Linked DNA regions of Homo sapiens: region 1 is linked to region 2. A link means that fine-mapping ties the variant in region 2 to the expression of a gene that starts in the linked region. Tissue or cell type: lung. Region 2 holds a variant in brackets; the other region holds the start of a gene. All regions are shown on one strand. Distances are between the middles of the regions.

Region 1 (2,753 bases), 41 kb after region 2:
CACCAAGACTGAGAATCCCCTAGAAACAAGCTGGCCCTGCCCTGGTCTCCCCCATCTCCAACGGCAGGTATACTCATCCCAACATACTCTCTTTCCGGACCAGCCTCGACCCCGGTAACTTCCCGGCCTTCTCCACTTCGGACCCTACCCAACATTTTCTGGCCTCCTCGCCCAAGTCTCCCCACGTCCCAAGCAGTCATCCCAAGCTTGTTCCAAAAGCCTCCTCTTCCGCACCAGCTGCTTGGGCACCACGGTTACTCCGGCCCGCATCTCAGCCCCCTCTGCATGTCCTCAGACCCTTCACCTGTCTCCCCAGCCAGGCCCTGACTTCCTAGTCCTCCTCCTGTGTCCACTTACCACCACCCCTCACCCGATGCCTAAGGCGGCCACTCCTCCCCATCCCCATCCCAACTCCATCGCGGAGCCTCTGACCCATCCACCCGGCTCTCCGTGTGAACTGTTCGGCCCTCCACCTTTCCCCACCGCCGGGAGGCCCTGCCTGCCCCGGTGCGCCTCTTCCTCGGCCGCCGCGGGGCCTCTCAGCGCCGCCTGCAGTCCCGGCTGAGCCCGCGCCCTCGGCCCGCGCAGAGCGACCCCACAGCACTCCCAGCGCTCGGCGTCCCCTCGGCCTCCCCCAGTCCCGGGCCAGCTCTCCCTGCCCTGACCCCGTCTCGGGCCTGGCCTCGCCCTCGCTGTCCCCGGCCTCTCCTCGGGTCCACTTGGGCCTCCGAGGCCCCCGGGGCGCCTGAGGAGCCGTCCGCCCGGGTTGTCCCTCCGTGCCCGTGGGCCCCTCCATGCCCCGGCTGCCCGTCCATGCCCCGTGGGCCCCGGCTCAGATGCCGAACGCCCCGGCTGCCCCTCCACGCCCCGGCCGCCCCTCCACGCCCCGGCCGCCCCTCCGTGCCCCGTGGGCCCCGCCTCACGTGCCGCCCGCCCCGGATCCCCTCCATCCCCGCTGGGCCCGCCTCAGGCACCCTCCGTCCCTGCTGCCCCTCCGTCCATCCGGGCCCTGCGTCCCTCGCCGCGCCGTCGCCCCGGCGGCCGTCCCCACCCTCCCTCCTCCCCGCTTCCGCACGGCCGCCGGACACTCACTACTCCTTGAGCAGCACCATGTCGCTTCGCGGCTCGGTGGCTGCCCGCGGCCCGCCCGGCCTCCCGCCCGCTGCCCGCCGGCCGCTCTCCCCGTGGCCCGGCCCGGCCCGGCTGCCTGTGCGTCTTCGTCGTGCTCTGCTCCGTCCCCGCCGCCCTCGCCGCGGTCGCCGCGCCGGCTCCTGCCGCCCGGGCCTCGTCGCCTCTCGCGCCGCTGCCGACGCCGCCCGGAGCTCCGGTTCCGCAGCGCCGCGCGGGGGCGGGGCGTCTCTGCGGCAACCAGAGCGTCACACGCCGCGGTGCGCGCTGACGTCACGCGGGGCCGAGCCTTCCCAGGCCCGCCCTCCCGTCCTTAAGTGGGCCGCGGCGGCGCTGTCGGTTCCGAGGTGGGGCCCCGCGGCTGGGGCCAGACCCGGCAGAAGGCGGAGCAGACTAGGGTGTCCGTCACCGTCCTCGGTGTGAACCGCCACGGATGCACGCGGGTGCTGGCTGGGGGGCCTCCCCGGTTGAGGGAATTGAGACCCAGGAAAAGGTTGTTTCAAAAAATATTAATAGCCGCGCGCGGTGGCCCACGCCTGTAATCCTTGCACCTTGGGAGGCCGAGGCGGGCGGATCACCTGAGGTCAGGAGTTCGAGACCAGCCTGGCCAACATGATGAAACCCCGTCTCTACTAAAAATACAAAAATTAGCTGGGCGTGGAGGCACGCACCTGTAATCCCAGCTACACGGGAGGCTGAGGCGGGAGAATCGCTTGTACCGGGAGGCAGAGTTTGCAGTGAGCCGAGATCGCGATCGCGCCATTGCACTCCAGCCTGGGGGACAAGAGTGAAACTTCGTCTCAAAAAAAAAAAAAAGAAAAGAAAAGGGCTGTGAGGCCGGGCGCGGTGGCTCCTGGCAGTAATCCCAGGCACATCATGCCTGTAATGCAGCACTCAGGCGGGCGCATCACCTGAGGTCAGGAGTTCCAGACCAGATGGCGAAACCCCATCTCTACTAAAAGTACAAAAATTAGCCGGGCGTGGTGGTGGACGTGGTGGTGGTAGTCCCAGCTGCTCGGGAGGATGAGGCAGGAGAATCGCTTGAACCCTGGAGGCGGAGGTTGCAGTGAGCCGAGATCGCACCATTGCACTCCAGCTGGGGCGACAGAGCGAGACTCTGCATCAAAAAAAAAAAAAAAAAAAAGAATGAAAAGGGCTGTGAGAAATGAGACACAGGCTTAGCGGCATTACACGGAGGGGCACCTAATTGAGCGTCAGGGATGTAGTCAGGGAAGGCTTCCTGGAGGAAGAGATTCTCAGATCTGCAGAGGGCTTCGGAGAAGAGCATAGCAGGCAGAGTGAATGCAAAGGCTGGAGGCAAGAGGGAGAGCATGGTGCATTTGGAGAACTGACAAGTGAGTGGAACAGAACATTTCAGGGCTGAGCAGCTCAATAGGGGAGGGTTCCTGGTGAACGATGATAAGGTATTTGGAGTCCACCCTAAGGGCGGTGGGAGGGCATGTAAGGGCTCTGAGCAGTGACATGAGCGGGTGTCCTGGGCGAAGGCTCACTCTAGTGGTTGGGTGGACAGAGGGGATGGAATGCCAGAGCGTAGGCAGGGAGACCGGCGAGGAGGCTGCTGCAGATGTCCAGGTGCAGGTGGACTAGGACAGTGGGAGGGAAGA
Region 2 (2,753 bases):
GAGCTGCTGGAATCCCATGACTCGGGTGGTGTACAGGGCACTGGGAAACCAGCACCGAGAGTTAACGGAAGGAGGGGGCTTGGGGAAAAGTGACAACATGAAACAAGGGGCCCCCAATCTGGCCCTGTGACCTGGGCAGAAACACCCTCCCAGCATCTGAAAGATGCCACCTCTGATGAGGGCAGCTTAGTATGGGATCGGGGGTATAAAGAAGGAAATGAAGCACCAGACAACAGTGGGTGCTAACAAAAGCTGTCTGGCCAGCAAGTTTTCCAAGGGGGAAGGGCAGGTAATGGCAGCTTTTGGGAGCTGGCGCTGGCGTGGGAAGGCCAGGGAGTGCCCAACATGACAGCTGCAACTTGAGATGGATCAAGCTGGCAGACAGGAGGAGTGATTCGCAGCAGATGAACTCCCCTTCTATATCCACCACCCCCTCCCTGTCCATTGTCTCTATCTGGGTGGTTCTTTGGAAAATGTCCCTGAAATGTCCCAAGGGCCATAATCTCCTAGTGGAAGTGGAGAGCTATCGAGCGTGGCAACCATCATTACTAGAGGGAAGGAGGAATAGGTTTTCTGACTCCATAGTGAGCTGCTGAGGCCTTGAAACCCAAACTGATTTTAGCGTCTGTGACACGCACAGTGAGAAATTTGGTACGTACAGTGCAGAGGGGAAAGGCGGCTTTAGTCATCTGCTGTCATTCCTTTCACTGGGTCCTTTTGTCTCATCTGGAACAAAAAAAGCAGGACAAATGGAAGGCTCCTGCTGCTGATGGAACTCCTGCCTTCTCAGTCCTGCCCATAGGTGGGGTGGGGCATATTTTGTGTAAAAAGCAAGACACTGGAAGGACGGAAGAATTCTGCATATGGACTCGAAGCCATACATTTCCAGATCTGTGTCACTGGTCTCACCATCCATGATTTCTAGTTCTCTCGTGTCACGGTGTTTGAAGCACCTTTTTTTTTTTTTTTTTTTTGGTAAAGAGGTGTGTGTGGGGGGGTCTTCCTATGTTGACCAGGCTGGTCTTGGGCTCCTGGCCTCACACGATCCTCTGCCTCAACCTCCCAAAGTGCTGGGATTACAGCATAGGTGTGAGCCACCACACTTGGCCCGTTTCATTCATTTATTCATTCAACAAATACTTA[T/C]GAAACATCTTTTTTTTTTTGAGACGGAGTCTCGCTCTGCCGCCCAGGCCGGACTGCGGACTGCAGTGGCGCAATCTCGGCTCACTGCAAGCTCCGCTTCCCGGGTTCACGCCATTCTCCTGCCTCAGCCTCCCGAGTAGCTGGGACTACAGGCGCCCGCCACCGCGCCCGGCTAATTTTTTGTATTTTTAGTAGAGACGGGGTTTCACCTTGTTAGCCAGGATGGTCTCGATCTCCTGACCTCATGATCCACCCGCCTCGGCCTCCCAAAGTGCTGGGATTACAGGCGTGAGCCACCGCGCCTGGCCGAAACATCTTTTTTTGTGTGTGTGAGGAGTCTTGCTCTGTCGCCCAGGCTGGAGTGCAGTGGCGCAAAGTTGGCTTACTGCAACCTCTGCCTCCTGGATTCAAGCGATTGTCCTGCTTCAGCCTCCCAAGTAGCTGGGATTGCAGGTATGCACCATCACGCCCAGCTAATTTTTGTATTTTTAGGGGAGACGGGGTTTCACCATTTTGGCCAGGCTGATCTTGAACTCCTGACCTCAGATGATCTGCCTGCCTTGGCCTCCTGAAGTGCTTGGATTACAGGCGTGAGCCACCGCACCCAGCCTCAGTGAGGCATCTCTTTAGTGCTAGGGACTTCCAGAGGGCTGGGAATATTTAGCTGTGAACTAAACAGACCAGTTCTCTCCTCAAGGAGCTTATATTCTGGGGCAGGATGGGCAGAGAACAAACATTCATCTATGTCAGCTAGGACTGTGGGCTGCTCGGATACAGAATGACTGTGGGTAAGTGCTATTTTAGGTAGTTACAGAAGCTTGTATGTGAGGTTTGAGATGAAACCTGAGAGAAATGAGGGAGAAAATCCTGTGGCTCTCCGGGAGAGGAGTTCCCGGCAGAGTAACAGAACTTCCCTTTCCTGACCTGTTTAAAGGTGGGCACAATGTGGTGTCAGAACTAGGCACAAGGATGCAGAGGTGGAAAGTGCAGGTGCAGGTCTCAGATCCACAGATGTGCAAGGCTGCTGGAAAACAGGATGGGGGCTTCTGTGGAAGCACCAAGTGGTCCCTGTCACTGGCACCTTCCAGGCAGACATCACTGGGGATACTGTAGACGTCATCTCTCTAAAATCAGTTCTGATTTGAAAACTCCATTCTATGTGAAGAATGTCAATAAGTATTTCTTCACTATCCATTAGTTTTCTGCTCAACTTTTGTTCTTTATAATGTTCAACAAATTTTGAGCACCTAAGAGCATAGCTGCTAGAATGAAACTCCCTAGACTGTATTGTTTTGTTTGAGACAGGGTCTGGCTCTGTTGCCCAGGATGGAGTGCAGTGGCGCAATCATGGCTCACTACAGCCTCGACTCCCTGGCTCAAGTGATCCTCCTGCCTCAGCATCCCAAGAAGCTGGGACTACAGGCATGTGCCACCACGCCTGGCTTTTTTTTTTTTTTTTTTTGAGACACAGTCTCTCTCTCTGTCGCCAGGCTGGATGGCAGTGGTGTGATCTCGGCTCACTGCAATCTCTGCCTCCCGGGTTCAAGCAATTCCCCTGCCTCAGCCTCCCCAGTAGCTGGGACTATAGGCACACGCCACCATGCCTGGCT

Evidence for each region. PIP is the estimated chance that this variant, and not a neighbour inherited with it, causes the effect.
Region 1: it holds the start of PITPNA, and the variant in region 2 is fine-mapped to the expression of PITPNA in lung (TOPMed, PIP 0.96).

The regions. Positions count from the first base shown.
Region 1 is chr17:1,561,449-1,564,201 of GRCh38, forward strand. PITPNA (phosphatidylinositol transfer protein alpha) reads right to left here and starts at 1,344. Exons shown (of 12, transcript NM_006224.4): 1 at 1,093-1,344. The coding sequence starts at 1,112. RefSeq lists enhancers at 297-396, 1,165-1,664 and silencers at 507-636, 1,117-1,166, 1,237-1,516.
Region 2 is chr17:1,520,920-1,523,672 of GRCh38, forward strand. It overlaps PITPNA (phosphatidylinositol transfer protein alpha), which reads right to left. Exons shown (of 12, transcript NM_006224.4): 11 at 660-726. The coding sequence ends at 682. Among named protein-coding and RNA genes, the nearest start is that of PITPNA-AS1, 5.4 kb to the left of the region's middle. The variant T/C (reference allele first, on the strand shown) is at 1,144.